Regions from separate parts of the Homo sapiens genome. Here region 1 is linked to region 2. Evidence: fine-mapped expression QTL. Tissue or cell type: whole blood. Region 2 holds a variant in brackets; the other region holds the start of a gene. All regions are shown on one strand. Distances are from middle to middle.

The links. PIP is the estimated chance that this variant, and not a neighbour inherited with it, causes the effect.
Region 1: NMUR1 starts here. The variant in region 2 is fine-mapped to the expression of NMUR1 in whole blood (TOPMed, PIP above 0.99). The same link has a PIP of 0.9 or more in adrenal gland.

The regions. Positions count from the first base shown.
Region 1 is chr2:231,525,762-231,533,937 of GRCh38, reverse strand. It overlaps NMUR1 (neuromedin U receptor 1), which reads left to right and starts at 3,493. Exons shown (of 3, transcript NM_006056.5): 1 at 3,493-3,579; 2 at 4,921-5,815. The coding sequence starts at 3,577. LOC105376787 (a long non-coding RNA gene) reads right to left here and starts at 1,768. Exons shown (of 4, transcript XR_001739928.2): 1 at 1,099-1,768. RefSeq lists enhancers at 1,807-2,541, 5,031-5,557, 5,558-6,085, 7,191-7,692 and a silencer at 3,236-3,665.
Region 2 is chr2:231,549,986-231,558,161 of GRCh38, reverse strand. It overlaps LOC105376787 (a long non-coding RNA gene), which reads right to left. Exons shown (of 4, transcript XR_001739928.2): 4 at 6,537-7,048. Among named protein-coding and RNA genes, the nearest start is that of NMUR1, 24 kb to the right of the region's middle. RefSeq lists an enhancer at 2,503-2,562. The variant T/G (reference allele first, on the strand shown) is at 3,207.

The sequences.
Region 1 (8,176 bases), 24 kb after region 2:
CTCAGGGGGCAAGGGGCTAGACAGTCCCCAGTGGTCCCCTCTAGGAGCAGGAGAGGCAGGGGCGATGCTCCCCGGAGGTCTCCTCCGCTGCTGGTCCCCACCGGGCTGCAGGGCCCCGACTGCCTGCACTGTGGCTGGGCTCCCTGCAAGCCTGTGTGCTCCTTTCCACTGGGACTCAGCTCTCCTTCCCGGGGTGCTGGGGACCTTGCCCTTCCAAACCCTACTAAGGACAGCTCCCACCCCAGCCCTGCCTCCCAGCAGCTTTCTGGTATCTTCCAGAGAATTCCAGGCTCTTCAACCCTGCACTGAGTGCTTAAACCCACATTATCACTCTTAATCCTCATGGCATCCCTGAAGGACAGGGGCTATGTTTGTGTTTTACAGGCAAAGAAGCTGAGGCCTGAAGCGCAAAGTGGCTTATCTGAGGCCACGCTGGCAGAATGCGGAGTCTCACTCTGGCCTCACAGCCTCCAAAGCCTGTACTCACCATGTTCCCTGCCTGGCTTGACCATCTCTCCCACCAGTTTCTGTGAGCAGACCAGGGCTGGTGGCTCAGGGAGCATGGGTGCATGATCACACAAAAGCCACGTGGCTCCCTGAGGTGCAATCCCAGCCCCCAAGTTCGGAACCCCATCACCTGAGGGGCCCAGACCATCCTCCTCTAGCTCCTGGCCATGGCCAGGCTGGGACCCCACAGAGCAGAGCTGGGTAGGGAGCTCTCTGACCTTGGGAGGTGCCCAGATGGGTACAGCGACTCTCCCTTGCTTCGGATATTTACTGTTCTTGTTCTCCATGTTTGCCCAATGAAGCCTAGTGATGGGGGTCCTGGGTGATCCCCATTGCCCAGGCTGCAGAACAGTGCCTCCCTCCTGTCCAGAGCTACAGTGTCCCCAAGCTCATCTCATCCTCCCTGCCTCCCCTCTGTAGGCAGTAAGTGGGGTGGGGTTGGGGCGTTTCTGGGGGAACCATGGGCTTGCCAGGAGCTGCGGGTCAGCCCAAGGCTGAGAAGGTTCTGGTTTAAGCCTGGCCTGAGTTTAAGCAGCCCCTCTTGGCTCTCAGGGACTCAGCAGGATGAGGAGGGGATACGGAGCTACTCACATGCCTCTGGCCCCATGAGTCCTGCACACGCCTGGGACTTGGGTGGTATCTCAGCAGCTCCTGGAGGTCCCAGTGGCCCTCCCTGAATGCATTTGCTGTTGTGCAGAGTTGGGTCCTTGGCCCCCTCATCTGGGCAGACGCCCACCAGCCAAGCTTAGATGGATGTGTACACCCAGAAAACTGGGGGGTGCCACCTCAGGACGGAGCAGGAGCAGCAGGATGTCATACGTTTCTGATGGGACACTACCGTGGTGGCCTTGAGCTCAGGCCCGGAGGCCAGGGCCCCTAGGGCCCTCTGCACAGTGCGGAAGTGAGGGCCACAGCCATTGTGGCCACTGAGCCTCTCCTTTTTGGGGGCTGCTCTTTAGCCTTTGATGGCTGCTAATGTTATGTGAATGATGCAACCCGCTGTAGGAATTCCTGACTGGCAAGAGTCATTCTGCCTCTGCAAGGCTAGGTGGGTCCTTCCCCATCCCCTCCAGGGCTGTGTGAACCAAAGGGTCCACGGGGACTTTCGGACTGCTCAGAGTCTGTGCAGAGTGGTATGTGTGTGCGCGTGTGTGTGGTGTGGTATGTGCAGAGTGATGTGTGCATGCATGTGTGTGTATGTGTGTGTACATGCATGTGCGTGTGTGTGTGTGTTCCAGTGAAGGGCTGGGGTCCAAATGCTCCTCACTTGCTAAGAGCAGCCTGTGATGCCACAGTGGTCTCTGATGCTGAGTGATGTCATCCCTCCTTGCCCGTCTGTTGTGCTGGCAGCCCTGTTACTGAGGATTTCTCCTGGACTAGCTCATCAGGGGCTGAGTAGTTAATTCCCAGGGCACCACAGAATCCTTTCTCCCAAGGCCCTGAGGACCACGTGCCCCTGCACTTCCCACAACCGTCCCCTGCCTGGGACTCTGTTTACATGTGGAGTTCCTGGGAAGGCCGGCCTGGTGCAGGCTCCTTGAGGGCCTAACTCCCATCCCCAAGCCCAGACAGTGACTTATGGAATTGGGGGGCAGTGGGGAGGAGGAGGGTGCAGGAAAGCGGGGGGAAGGAGGAGCCTCCAGTTGCCACTAAATGGTGACAATCCCACCCCACATTTCTTGAGTGTTGGCCATGTGCCAGCCCCTGTGCTGAATCTTGACGCTCAGTGTCTCATGTCACCTTCACAATAGTGGCGATGGTGGTTAGCCCATTCTACAGGAAGGGGAACTGAGGCACACAGAGCTTCTGAGCTCACGGTGGCCTCTCGGGGTCCTGTGGCTTTGTAACCTCTCCTGGTGCTCCTCAGTGTGATTCTGGGGCATGGGGCTCTCCAGAGGGCGTTTGTCAAACATGAGGATTTCTGGGCCTTGCCCAGGCTAAGGAGACAAAACTCTGGGCAAAGGCCCCGGAACCAGCATTTTACTCTGTGTGATCCGTCATTTCTAGGGTCCCTAGAAGTTTCTGATGAAACAGCTTCCAGCTAAGGAGCTGATTGCAGGACTAGGGAGTGGGAGCAGGTGAGGCACTGGGATTTGCATGTGGGCAGTGTGGGGGAGCAGGAGGCTGTGGCTGGGCATTCTTAACCCTTCCCTAAATTCCCTCCATCCTTGTCTATACCCCCACCCTTGGTACAGTGATGGGGGCAGAAGAACATTTGAACGGATAAGGGGGACAGTATTTGGGGCTGAGGACAATGGTGAGGAGAGGGTGGCCCAGGGAGGCAGGTGAGGAGTGGGGAGGTCCACCCCCAGGCTAGACTTTGGTGTGCTCTTTTTCAGAAGGCAGTGGGGGGGCCCCAAGGAAGGGTTTCGAGGGGGTGATGGTCGTTGGTGGCTGTGGGAGGATGGACTGGAGGGAGAATAGGGGGCTCTTGCCCAGTCCTGCAGGGCCGAGCGCCTGGACTCAGGGACTGGAGGCCCCGAAGGGAGCAGCGGGTGAGAGGGGCTGCGGAGGCTGCAATCATGGGCCTTGGGACAGAAGAAGAGGCCTGGAGCCTGGGAGGATGAACCGCACCGGGGCATGTCGACTTCAAGGGGCTGGTGGGCCGTCCCTGTCCTTGGAGGTGGGTCTGAATGGGGGGCAGGAGGAGCTGGAGGCCGCAGGGACACCGTGACGGCGTTAAGCTAAACTCAGCACGCTGGAGGGCGGGAATCACATGTGAGCCCCAGGTCTCTCGGGCTCCTCCTCTGCGGCTCTCTGAGGCTCAGTTTTCTCATCTGTAAAACGGGTTGTTGTGAGGGTTCCGTCAGATAACGCTGCTTGTGGAGGTGTCGCCTCCACGCTGCTTGTGGAGGTGTCGCCTCCAACGGCCGCGTCCTCCGCCAGTGCGGGAGGGGGCGCCGCCCGGGCTGCGGGGACTGCACTGCCCCCTGGCGGCGTTCCCGGCCGGACAGGCGGGGCGTCGGGGCGCGGGCTGGGGCCGCTGTCAGTCAGTCCACTGGCTCCCGCGCCGCGTCTGTGTCCGTCGCTCGGAGGGTGGAAGCCGGGGTCTCGCGGGCCGCGGGCCGCATGGTAGGTGCGCAGGCGCCGGCGTGGGCTAGGGCGCGGCAGCTGGGCCGGGGCTCGGTGCGGGCAGGGTCGTCCTAGGGCGGGAAGGGTCCGAGGGCTCCGTCGGGGTGCCCCCCGTCCCCGCCACCGGGGAGCCTCGCAACTTCTCGGGTCATTTGTGTCTTCCGGCCAGGGGCGCCGGGGGGCTGCGGGCTTGCGACCCTTCCTCGAGGACCAGGGCGCCTCCCTTGAACCCGGGCTGGCGCCTGCGCGTTCCCAACTGGTTCCCGAGGCTCCCGCGCTGCTGTGCAGCGGGGGTGAGGGCGGGCGGGAGGAAGGGTGTGGGGCTCAATAGAGGAGAGGGAACCCCAGAACTGGCAGTGCCAAGGGCGTCAAATATGGAGACTGAACAGTTCAGGTGACAGAAAACAGAAAAAAGAATCAACTTGTGGATGAAGCATTTGTAGTGTGTAGCCTTGACACTCCCTCACTTGACTCTCATAGTGACTGGGTCCCCAGAGCAAGGGGGTGATCCCCGTGCCCTTCCGTATGCCAGGCAGGCCCTGTGTTAATGTCTTTAATGGATTAAACTCCCTGGATCCTCCTAATAGGGAAACAGCCTCAGAGAGGTTACCTCGCTAAAGGTCACACAGCCTGGAACTGGGGAGGCTGGATTCGAATCCAGGCAGTTGCTTCCTGAGCGCTTGCTCTTGAAGACCCTGCAATACCAGGCATTGTGCCCATTTTACAGATGCCCAAACGAGTGCCTCATCTAGCATCATTGCTTGAAAGAGGAGACACCCAAGATCTGTCATTTACTCAAAGGTTCCAATAGATCATGAAATTTAAAATCAAAACCCCACGTGTTTTTTTTTTTTTAAATGTAGATTTTTACTTTTTCGTTGTTTGCTTTTTGTTTTTTTGAGACAAGGTCTTTCTCTGTTGCCCAGGCTGGAGTCCGGTGGCACAATCTCCGCTCACTGCAACCTCTGTCTCCTGGGTTCAAACAATTCTCCCGCCTCAGCCTCCCAAGTAGCTGGAATTACAGGCGTGTGCTACCACGCCCGGCTACTTTTTGTATTGTTAGTAGAGACGGGGTTTCACCATATTGGCCAGGCTGGTCTTGAACTCCTGATCTCAAGTGATCCGCCTGCCTCGACCAAAGTGTTGGGATTACAGGTGTGAGCCACTGCACCAAGCTTATTTTTACATCTCTGACTTGTGGATGGAAGAGTTTTTTCTTTCTCAGTGGTGCCTAAAATAATGGTCATCATAGCGCTAATGTCACCTTTGGCTTGATGAGTGAGGACAGAGCCAGCATTCCCTGAATGATCTTTCTGGGCATCTCTCCCCTCTGTTCCACAGACTCCTCTCTGCCTCAATTGCTCTGTCCTCCCTGGAGACCTGTACCCAGGGGGTGCAAGGAACCCCATGGCTTGCAATGGCAGTGCGGCCAGGGGGCACTTTGACCCTGAGGACTTGAACCTGACTGACGAGGCACTGAGACTCAAGTACCTGGGGCCCCAGCAGACAGAGCTGTTCATGCCCATCTGTGCCACATACCTGCTGATCTTCGTGGTGGGCGCTGTGGGCAATGGGCTGACCTGTCTGGTCATCCTGCGCCACAAGGCCATGCGCACGCCTACCAACTACTACCTCTTCAGCCTGGCCGTGTCGGACCTGCTGGTGCTGCTGGTGGGCCTGCCCCTGGAGCTCTATGAGATGTGGCACAACTACCCCTTCCTGCTGGGCGTTGGTGGCTGCTATTTCCGCACGCTACTGTTTGAGATGGTCTGCCTGGCCTCAGTGCTCAACGTCACTGCCCTGAGCGTGGAACGCTATGTGGCCGTGGTGCACCCACTCCAGGCCAGGTCCATGGTGACGCGGGCCCATGTGCGCCGAGTGCTTGGGGCCGTCTGGGGTCTTGCCATGCTCTGCTCCCTGCCCAACACCAGCCTGCACGGCATCCGGCAGCTGCACGTGCCCTGCCGGGGCCCAGTGCCAGACTCAGCTGTTTGCATGCTGGTCCGCCCACGGGCCCTCTACAACATGGTAGTGCAGACCACCGCGCTGCTCTTCTTCTGCCTGCCCATGGCCATCATGAGCGTGCTCTACCTGCTCATTGGGCTGCGACTGCGGCGGGAGAGGCTGCTGCTCATGCAGGAGGCCAAGGGCAGGGGCTCTGCAGCAGCCAGGTCCAGATACACCTGCAGGCTCCAGCAGCACGATCGGGGCCGGAGACAAGTGACCAAGATGCTGTGTAAGTGTCACGGCTGGGAAGAGGGGCTGAGCCAGGCACTGGGTATGAGTTTGGGGCTCCTGGGGCCTGGGAGAAGGGGCTGAGTATCTGGGTTTATGGGGGACGAGGAACTCCTCTAGTCTCGTGTGTGTGTGTGTGTGTGTGTGTGTCTGAGTTGCACTCCTGTGTACTCTTTTAGATTACCCTACTAGAATCTTACACCAAAAATACCTGTTAATGGCTAACGGTAAGATTGTGTAATTTGTGGAGTCCAGTGCAACATGAAAATTCAGGGTCCCTTTTTCAAAAATGAATAAGAATGTCAAGACAGCAACAACAGAGCATTAAACCAAGCCCAGGACCCTGCTAAACTTGGGGCCCTGGCTCTGGAACCAAAACACAGAAAGGGCAGGGCATGTGGTTGGGCTCCAGGATGACAGAAAATGGGATCTGGACCCTCCAGGTCTCAGGTCTCTCCTCTTCTTTTTTTTTTTTTTTTTTTTTTTGAGACAGGGTCTTGCTCTGTCACTCAGGCTGTGGTGTGACCACGGCTCACTGCAGCCTCAACCTCCCAGGCTCAAGCGATCCTCCTACCTCACTCAGCCTCCTAAGTAGCTGGGGCTACAGGCAGGTGCCACCATGCCCAGCTAATTTTTTCATTTTTGTAGAGACGGGGTCTCACTATGTTGCCAGAGCGGATCTTGAACTCCTGGTCTCAAGTGATCCTCCCACCTCAGCCTCCCAAAGTGCTGGGATTACAGGCATAAGCCATTGCACCCGGCTCTCTTTGGTTATTAACGTGTCTTGGCCTTGTTCTTCTCGGCAGCAGCCTGTGAGGCATGGCCACCGGCACGCCATCTTCTTTCCTGAGGAACTGCTGTCTTTCCTTAGAGATGAGTGAAAAATCCCAAGAAGGATTCTGATGGGCGTGGCCTAGGTCATGCCCCACCTCCTGAGCCAGAGTGGCAGGATGCCGAGGTGCACAGCCCCCAGTGGAACTACACAGTGAGATCTGGGGGGAGCAAAGTCCCCCAGAGAAGGGGAGGAGGGTGTTGGAGAGGCCAGGTGCTGAATTTCCCCCATGCCATGTCTGCGGTTCCCTGGGAACCGCAGGAGAGACCATTTGTCTAAACAGCCCCATCCCGAGGCGTGTCTGTGAAGGCCGGGCTCAAGGCACAGGGGATCAGGCCAGAGGCCTGCGGATTAGGGCAGGCTAAGGTACTGGGATGAGGCTCTGGATCTCTGTGGCCTGGACCTGGCTCTTTTTCAAAAGCTGTGGCCCTGGGGAAGCAAGACAAACTGATACTAAGCCGATCAAAGATCCGCCCCATCCACCTACCTGCATCCCAGCTCAGCCCCACCTCAGCAGAGCCTGAATCAGGCCAGTGGGGTGAGCCAGGTCAGCAGAGGGCCACTGAGACTTTGGACAGAGCCAGCTAACTGGGGGCCGCCCCATCTCCAGAGTGACTCGCTCCTCTCACCCCTCAGACACCGTCCCAGAGCTCAGTCTCTTGTGCAGCTCCTGAAACGAGGCTGACCCCAGAGCTATGTGCATGCCTCCCAGCTCTGCACGGTGAAGCCTGTGCTCAGGACCAGCTGCCCACTGCCGCCCTGCCTCCTGCCTACTACCCCGTCCCCTCCCTGAAAACATGGGTGGGCAGAGTCTGCAGTAGGTGCTTAGCTGGGGTGGCTCACCCCTGGAAGGTGGGCTTCCTGCTTGCTGGCCTTCTCTCTTCCCTCCCTCCCTCCCTTGTCCACTTTCCGCTGGCCCTCTGTGCACCAGGCCAGGGGCCAGGGAGGTTGTGAGCAACGTCCTTTTTGAAATCTGGGATTATGAGGAAAACCATGCTAGGGTATGATGGGGAAGACACTGCCCAGGAAAGCTAGTGAGTTGCAGCAGCAAACCCAAGAAACAAGGAACAAAAATCACAGCTGACCCTGTGGCAGAGACCCAGGGAAGGGCATAGTTGGGTAAGAACAAGGCAGGAGGGATTTGGGGAGAAAGTGAAGGTTTGCCAAACTCTCCTACCTTTTGTTAGGGAGGGGGTGGGCAAGGGCCTGGCAAGTAAGATGGGGGGCAGGTTAGTGCAGGGCAAGACATTCAGATGGGCCTTGGGGAGCTGGGGGCTGGAGCTGAAAAGGCCGGGGCCAAGGCAGGCAGTGTGTGTGTGTGTGCATGTGTGTGTCTGTGTGTGTGCATGCATGTGTGTGTGTGTGCATGCGTGTGTGTGTCTCACTCTCCCTGGCCCCATGACCTCCGGTCTGCCGCTCTCTGAGCACGTGCCCCATTCTTCTTTTCTGTACTTATGCATCAGCAAGCATGGCCCCCAAGTGGGCATCCAGAGTGGCCCTAGCCCCACAGCTTGTATCACCCCAGAAGCT
Region 2 (8,176 bases):
TTTCCCAAGTATATCACTTAATCTTTACACCTACCCCAGGAGGTAAATTATGAAATTTGGCTGAAGAAGCAACTTCTTACCATCAGGGGGCAGACTTGGGACAGGAACCCAGGACGCTGACTCCAGATGCAGAGAGCAAAACTTGAGCCTCAGCAGTTCTCAAGGCATGGTCCTAACCTAGCAGTAGAGTGTCGCTGGAGACTTCCTAGGCATGCGTGTTCTTGGGCCTGCCGCTGCCTGGCTGACTTGGGAACTCGGGCTGGGCCCAGCTGTCTGAGTTGCAATCAGCAGTGAGGAGACTCTGGGAGACACCAACGATTGACCACTGGGCTCTCCTTGACAGCCGGCTTTCCTTCCTGCCCAGGAAGGCACCCTGAGCCCCTTCCGTTTCCCCCTTTCCCTGACTTCAGTGACAGCCCCATCTGCCTGCTGGACGCAGATGAGAGCCACTGGAGATGCTGCCCTGCCCCTCCCAGCTTCAGGGACTACTCCAACTGCCCCAGCGCCTGTCTGCAGCATGGCCTCAGGGTGCTTGTGTGAGGGCCAGAGCCCCTCCCTCACAGTGAGTGGGGGTTCCTGGTCCGCAGTTGGGGTCTGTGTATTGGAGAATCCGGCGTCGGGCGGAGGTGGAATGTGATTCCGAGGGGAAGGTCTCAAGTCATGGGCGCTTCTGGACTAGAACGGGGAAAGCCTAGGGTGAGAGAGTTAGGAAAGGGGTCCCAGGCCAGGAGAGGAAGGAGCACCCACGGTCAGGTGGGAAACCCTCGGGACTGTCCTCCTGAGGGGTTTTTCTGAACAGACTGTGTGTGCCTCAATGGAGTGTCTTGGAAACAGCAGGAGAGGTGCCCACTCTCCTCCCTGCCTGAAGCCTGGTGGCCCCTCTGCCCTGGGACACTTGCTCTGGACTTTGAAGTTGGCTGGGCCCTCTTGGGTCTGTGTTCCCGGGAGACCATGAAGGACCTGGCCTGCTGGGTGGTCTAAGACCCGTTAAGACACAGGCCCAGGGCCTGGGGAATCCACCCAGCAACTGGGTTTGGAGCCGGGCCCTTCAGGGGCTTGCCGAGGAGGAGCAAAACCAGGACACCAGAGCCTGGGCTGATGGTCGAATTCATCCGGTCTAGATATCAGCTGTTTCAGATCGAGTCACTTCATTTGGTAACTGTACCCATTTCATTTGGTTCTCTCATGGGCATTCATTTAAAACATCACTTTCAGCCGGTTGCAGTGGCGCACACCTGTAATCCCAGCACTTTGGGAGGCCGAGGTGGGCGGATCACTTGAGGTCAGGAGTTTGAGACCAGCCTGGCCAAAATGGTGAAACCCTGTCTCTACTAAAATATGAAAAATTAGCTGGGCATGGTGGCACGTGCCTGTAATCCCAGCTACTCGGGAGGCTGAGGGAGGAGAATTGCTTGAACCCAGGAGGCAGAGATTGCAGTGACCCGAGATCGCACCGCTGCACTCCAGCCTGGAAGACAGAGCGAGACTCGGTCTCAAAAAAACAAAAACAAAAACAAAAAACAACATCACTTTTGAGCCAGACCTCTGGACCCTTGACCTTCCATGACCCCCTGGCCTGACCAAGCAGTGCCCCTGGTGTGTCTCTCATCTCTACCTCCAGCTAAGCTGGGTATTTATATTTTCCATCTAGGAAACAAGTGGAATAAATACCAAGCCTATGAATGTTAGAAATTTCCAAATTAAGTTCATTGCTGAGCTTTAGAGGGCTTACTTTTGGCCCCCAATTTCCACTCTTGGTGGGTTTAATCTCAGCCCTTGAGGGCTCTCTCCTTCCAGGTCATTCCCGTGCTGAGGCCAGGGTGGGTGGGCAGCAGGTCCCCAGTCAGTAACCCACACCATGGCTGCAAGATTCTCTTTGGCTGTTTTTTTTTTTGTTTTTTGTTTTTTGTTTTTTGTTTTTGAGACAGAGTTTCACTCTTGGTGCCCGGGCTGGAGCGCAATGGCATGATCTTGGCTCACTGCAACCTCTGCCTCCAGGGTTCAAGTGATTCTCCTGCCTCAGCCTCCTGAGTAGCTGGGATTACAGGCGTGTGTCACCACGCCTGGCTAATTTTTGTATTATTATTATTTTTTGAGACAGAGTTTTGCTCTTTGTTGCCCAGTCTAGAGTGCAGTGGTGCAATCTCAGCTCACTGCAACCTCTGCCTCCCGGGTTCAAGCAATTCTCCTGTCTCAGCCTCCCGAGTAGCTGGGATTACAGGCGCCCACCACCATACCTGGCTAATTTTTGTATTTTCAGTAGAGACAGGGTTTCACCATGTTGGCCAGGCTGGTCTCAAACTCCTGACCTCATGATCCACCTGCCTCGGCCTCCCAAAGTATTGGGATTATAGGCGTGAGCCACGACACCCAGCCTTTTATTTATTTATTTATTTATTTTGAGACAGTATCTCACTCTGTTACCCAGGCTGGCAGGCTGGAGTACAGTGGCAGATCTCTGCTCACAGAAGCCTTGACCTCCCAGACTCAAGCAATTCTCCCACCTTACCCTCCCAAGTAGCTGGGACTACAGGTGCACAACACCATGCTCAGCTAATTTTTGTACTTTCTGTAGGTTTTGCTGTGTTGCCCAGGCTAGTCTTGAACTCCTGACCTCAAGTGAGCGGCCTACCTCATCCTCCCAGAGTGTTGGGATTGGAGGCATGAGCCACTGTGCCCAGCCTCTCTTTGTCTTTCTGCCAGATTCTTGAAGGTCAGCTGCTCCCCACAGCTTGGGGCTGCCCTTGGGCCTCAGGACTTCTTTGACGTGGCCCTGGGTCCTCTTCCTGGATGTCTCAGGGCAACAGCATCCCTCTCTTCGTCTCGCCTCATGTCCAGGAGCAGGACCCAGGAAACAGGCCCCCTGCCCTCCTACTCTCGCTGCTCCTTACCTCCCCCCTGCCCATCTTTCCCTCCTGTCCTCTAACTGGGGGGAGAGGACCAGAGGACCTTGTCCCCTGCTTCCAGTCAGACACTCTGCCCTTCTTTCCTTCTACTTGCTCAGTAAACCCTCCAAGTTCTCCTGAGACCTTCAGCTTTAAGAAAACAAAAGCCAGAAGGACCTTCAGGGAGGAAGAGGCCCTGCAGAGTGGGTGGCCTGGGGTGGCGTGGGAGGGCAGAGGCGGAGACAGCTGGGAGGCTGAATCAACAGGACTTACTGTCTGTGGATGGTGAGGAGAGGAAGACGTCAAAGCCGAGCCAGAGAG[T/G]CCAGGAGGTCCAAACTGGAGACGTGAAGAAGCTGTCCTCTTCATGGGGAAAGTGAAAGCTGCGGCCTCGCCTGTGGGCGTGTCCAGAGGACCATGGAAAGGACAGTGGTGGGAAGAAGCAGGGCCAGGGGAAGAGCTGAGCCTGGATGCTGGGCCTGGAGGGAGGGCAGGGGCAGCCTTGGTAAGGACCACCCTGCGGAGTGAGAAGGGAGCCTGCAGAGGGAGGGCAGAGGGCCAGGCCTCGCATGAAGACTGCTTTATTTAGGGGATGGAGGCAGAGGAGCGGGAGAAAGGGCTGGGAAGGCTTACAAATAGTGGACAGGGACCAGCCTGGCCCACAGCCCCACGCGGGCAGTGGGTGGGAAAAGGAATCGAGATGTCAGTGTGTCTCCAGTGAGCCCTGTGTGCAGTTGGTGCTGGGCATGGGTGTGTTGGCTCAGTATGAGGGCTGAGTATGTGCTGGCTGAGTACACAGACGAAGGAAGGAAATGTGTGAGTCTGGTGAGGCTGCTGCAACAAACTGCCACAGACTGGGGGGCTCAAAACATAGCAATGAATTTTTTCACGGTTCTGGAGGCTTGAAGTCCAAGATCAAGGTGTCAGCCGGACTGGCTTCTTTGGAAGCCTCTCTCTGGCTTGTAGATGGCCACCTTCTCTGCTTCTTCACGTGGACTTCCCTCTATGAGTGTCTGTGTCCTGATCTTGGTTTTGTTTTTTTTTTTTTTTTGAGATGGAGTCTTGCTCTTGTCACCCAGGCTGGAGTGCAATGATGCGATCTCTGCTCACTGCAACCTCTGCCTCCCAGTCTCAAGCAATTCTTCTGCCTCAGCCTCTTGAGTAGCTGGGACTACAAGTGCACGCCACCACACCCAGCTAATTTTTGTATTTTTAGTAGAGATGGGGTTGTGCCATGTTGACCAGGCTGGTCTCAAACTCCTGACCTCAGGTGATCCGTGCACCTTGGCCTCCCAAAGTGCTGGGACTATAGGCATGAGCCACCATGCCTAGTCCTGATCTTGTCTTCTTATAAGGACTCCAGTCATATTGGATAGAGCCCGCTCCCATGACCTCATTTAACTCTACTTCTTCAAAGATCCTATGTCCAAATACAGTCATACTAATTGAGGGTTAGGACTTCAGCTTATGAATTTTGGGATGACAATTCTGCCCATAACGAGGAGCATCTACATATTGTCAGGGAGAGAAAATATACACACTTAAGTAATGGACAAGATAGTGTACAGTTATTTGCTAAACTGTGTGCTATAAACAAATGAGAAAATAAGAAAGTATATAAGAAATGACTACACATGGAGACACTGAAGAAAATATAGTTCAATAATGCTTTGAACCCTCAACCAGCTTTAAATAAGAGCAGAAAATCTCTGGGTGCTGGGAATACAAAGGGAACATAAAATGAGAGAGTTAGTGGGAGGAGAAGTTGAAATGGCTCATGGAGTTTTGGAGCCAGATGTTGGCCTTCAATGCTTTGGGCAGGGGTTTTGAAATTACAAAGGGGACCAAGAAATTAGCATAACTGGCACATCTCGGCAGCTTGAGAGAGGCAAATGCAAAGCCTCTCTGTAGGATTGTTTCTACAATTTAGGAATGAGAGACTCCCATGGAAAGCATCCCCCACTGAGTTGAGCTCACAAGGGGTCAAAAATTAGAAAAGCAACAGTCAGAAGGAAATAGGAAGAATAGCCTCCCAAGGAATATAATTAATAGAAAAATCTAAAATGTACTCTAATGCAAAGTGTTTAAAGTGTTCACAGGAAAAAAAAAAGAGCTATAAACCATAATGTAAGGACTGAATAAAATGAAAACAGGATAGGCAGATTTGAAAAATAATTAAACAAAAGTTATAGCTATAAAAATACAACTACAGAACAGGAAAAAACATCATTGGATGAGTGAAATGGTATTTTAGACACAGCCAAAGAAAGAATTAGTGAATTAGAAAACAAAGCTGAAGAAATTTTCCAGAATGCATCACAATGAGGTAAAGAAATGGAGTTGGGAGGAGAGAATGAAATGATGCAGCAGCCATTAAACAAGAGTTCCAGAGGAAGAGAATAACAGAATGAGAGAGTTCATACTTGAGGAGCTAGAAATGGCCAAACCTGTGCTAAATAATGTAAATAAGTGTTACATAATTAAAACAAGAAAAGAAAAAGACCAATTTCACTTTAATGCAACCACTTATAATAGAAGACCCATATAGTGCTTGCTACATGCCAGGCATTGTTTTAAGCACTTTACATATATTAACTTGTTTTCTAGAAAATAATACTTCAGGGCTGGGCATAGTAGCTCACACCTGTAATCCCAGGGCTTTGGGAGTCTGAGGCAGGAAGATTGCTTGAGGCCAGGAGTTTGAGATCAGCCTAGGCAACATAGTGAGAACCTGTCTCTACAATTTTTTTTTTTTTTTTTAATTAGCCAGGCATGGTAGTACTTGCCTGTAGTCCTAGCCACTCGGAGGCTGAGGTGGGAACCCAGGAGCTTGAGGCTGCAGTGAGCTATGATCATGCCACTGCACTCTAGCCTGGGTGACAGAGAGCAAAACCCTGTCTTTAAAAAAGTTTTTTAAAATAAAAAAAGAAGATAATACCACAAAGATGAGAGGAGATTGGCATTAAAATATTCTAAGTTCATTATATTATTTGAGAAAAATATGGAGATTTTAATATGTTTAAATATCGGTTCCTTCTGTATGAAGAGGAATAAATATTGAACTCAACTTGATTTCTTTTTTCTTTTTTTTTTTTTTTTTTTTTGAGATGGAATTTCACTCTTGTTGCCCAGGCTGGGGAGCAATGGTGTGATCTTGGCTCACTGCAATCTCCATCTTCCAGGTTCAAGTGATTCTCCTGCGTCAGCCTCCCCAGTATCTGGGATCACGGGCATGAGCCACCACACCCGGGTAATTTTGTATTTTTAGTGGAGATGCCGTTTCACCATGTCAGCCAGGCTGGTCTTGAACTCCTGACCTCAGGTGATCCACCTGCCTTGGCCTCCCAAAGTGCTGGGATTATAGGCGTGAGCCACTGCTCCTGGACAACTTGATTTCTTTCTTTTCTTTCTTTTTTTTTTTTTAGATGGAGTTTTGCTCTTGTTGCCTAGGCTGGCGTGCAATGGTGCGATCTCAGCTCACCGCAACCTCTAGCTCCCGGGTTCAAGCAATTCTCCTGCCTCAGCCTCCTGAGTAGCTGGGATTACAGGCATGCACCATCATGCCCAGCTAATTTTGTATTTTTAGTAGACACGGGGTTTCTCCATGTTGTTCAGGCTGGTCTTGAACTCCCGACCTCAGGTGATACACCCGCCTTGGCCTCTCACAGTGGTGGGATTACAAGCGTGAGCCACCACGCCCAGCCCCAACTTGATTTCTTAATGATGATCACTGGACCTCCTTCTGCTCCCTGCCTTCTGGGTACTTGGCAGGATGACATTTCCTGGCTGTCTTACCATTGATTAGACGGAGCCATGGGGCTAGTTCTGGCCAATGAGTAGAAGTGATTTGACATCCAGGCTAAATATTTAGTTACCAGTACCCTCCAGGGCTCTAATAGAGTGATGTTCAACATGGTGGTTACTCCATCAGCATCAGCCCATCGGTGACATAGATAAGAAGAATACCCCTCTTGTCTCCCTGTAGAGACCCTGAGAAAGAAAAACTTTTATTGTGTTCAGGGCTGGACTAGAAGCTTCATAGTATCACCAGAGACTCATGTTTCCTCTGCCTTTCAGCTCTGCCATTCTTAGGGTGTGATGTCTAGCCTCCAGATCACTTCAGGGTCCATGATAGCTGCTGGACCTCCAGCCATCACATCTGTATTCTAGAAAGGAATTAGGAGATGGAGGCTAAGGAGAAGGTATAAAAATAGCTTTCATCAGCTGTCTGTCCCCAACCCTCTCTTTATTTTTTATTTTTTTGTAGCAACGGGGTCTCATCATGTTGCCCAGGCTGGCCTGAGCTCAAGTGATTTGCCTGCCGCACCCTTCCAAAGTGCTGGGATTACAGATGTGAGCCACTGTGCCCGGCTAGCCTCTTTTTTTTTTTTTTTTTTTTTTTTTGAGACGGAGTTTCACTCTTGTTGCTCAGGCTGGAGTGCAATGGCACGATCTCCCCGCTCACTGCAACCTCTGCCTCCCAGGTTCAAGTGATTCTCCTGCCTTAGCCTCCCGAGTAGCTGGGATTACAGGCATGCACCACCACGCCTGGCTAATTTTGTATTTTTAGTAGAGACAGGATTTCTCCATGTTGGTCAGGCTGGTCTCGAACTCCTGGCCTCAGGTGATCTGCCTGCCTCGGCCTCCCAAAGTGCTGGAATTACAGGTGTGAGCCACCGCGCCTGGCCTTTTTTTTTCTTTTGAGATGGAGTTTTGCTCTTGTTGCCCAGGCTGGAGTGCAAAGGCACGATCTTGGCTCACTGCACCCTCCGCCTCCCAGGTTCAAGCGATTCTCCTGCCTCAGCCTCCCGAGTAGCTGGGATTACAGGTGCCCGCCACCATGCTTGGCAAATTTTTGTATTTTTAGTACAGGCAAGATTTTACCATGTTGGCCAGGCTAGTCTTGAACTCCTGACCTCAGGTGATCCACCTGCCTTGGCCTCCCAAAGTGCTAGGATTATAGGCATGAGCCACTGTGCCCAGCCTCCCTCTCTCTCTCTCTCTTTTTTTTTTTTTTTAGAGACATAGTCTCCTTCTGTTGCCCAGGCTGGAGTGCAGCGGCTATTCACAAGCATGATCTAGCTTACTACAGCCCAGAACTCCTAGGTTCAAGCAATCCTCCAAGCAACTGTGTATGTCTCTCTTAAACCGTTTCCTCATAAGTCCCACTCTACAACCTCTGAATGGCCTCCTGTAGTTGGGAAATGTAGTCATTTAGCTGAGACATGCAGTGTAAATGGTCACTTGGAAAAACAAACAGTCTAGGATCTGTCAGTCAGGAAATAGGGAGAGAG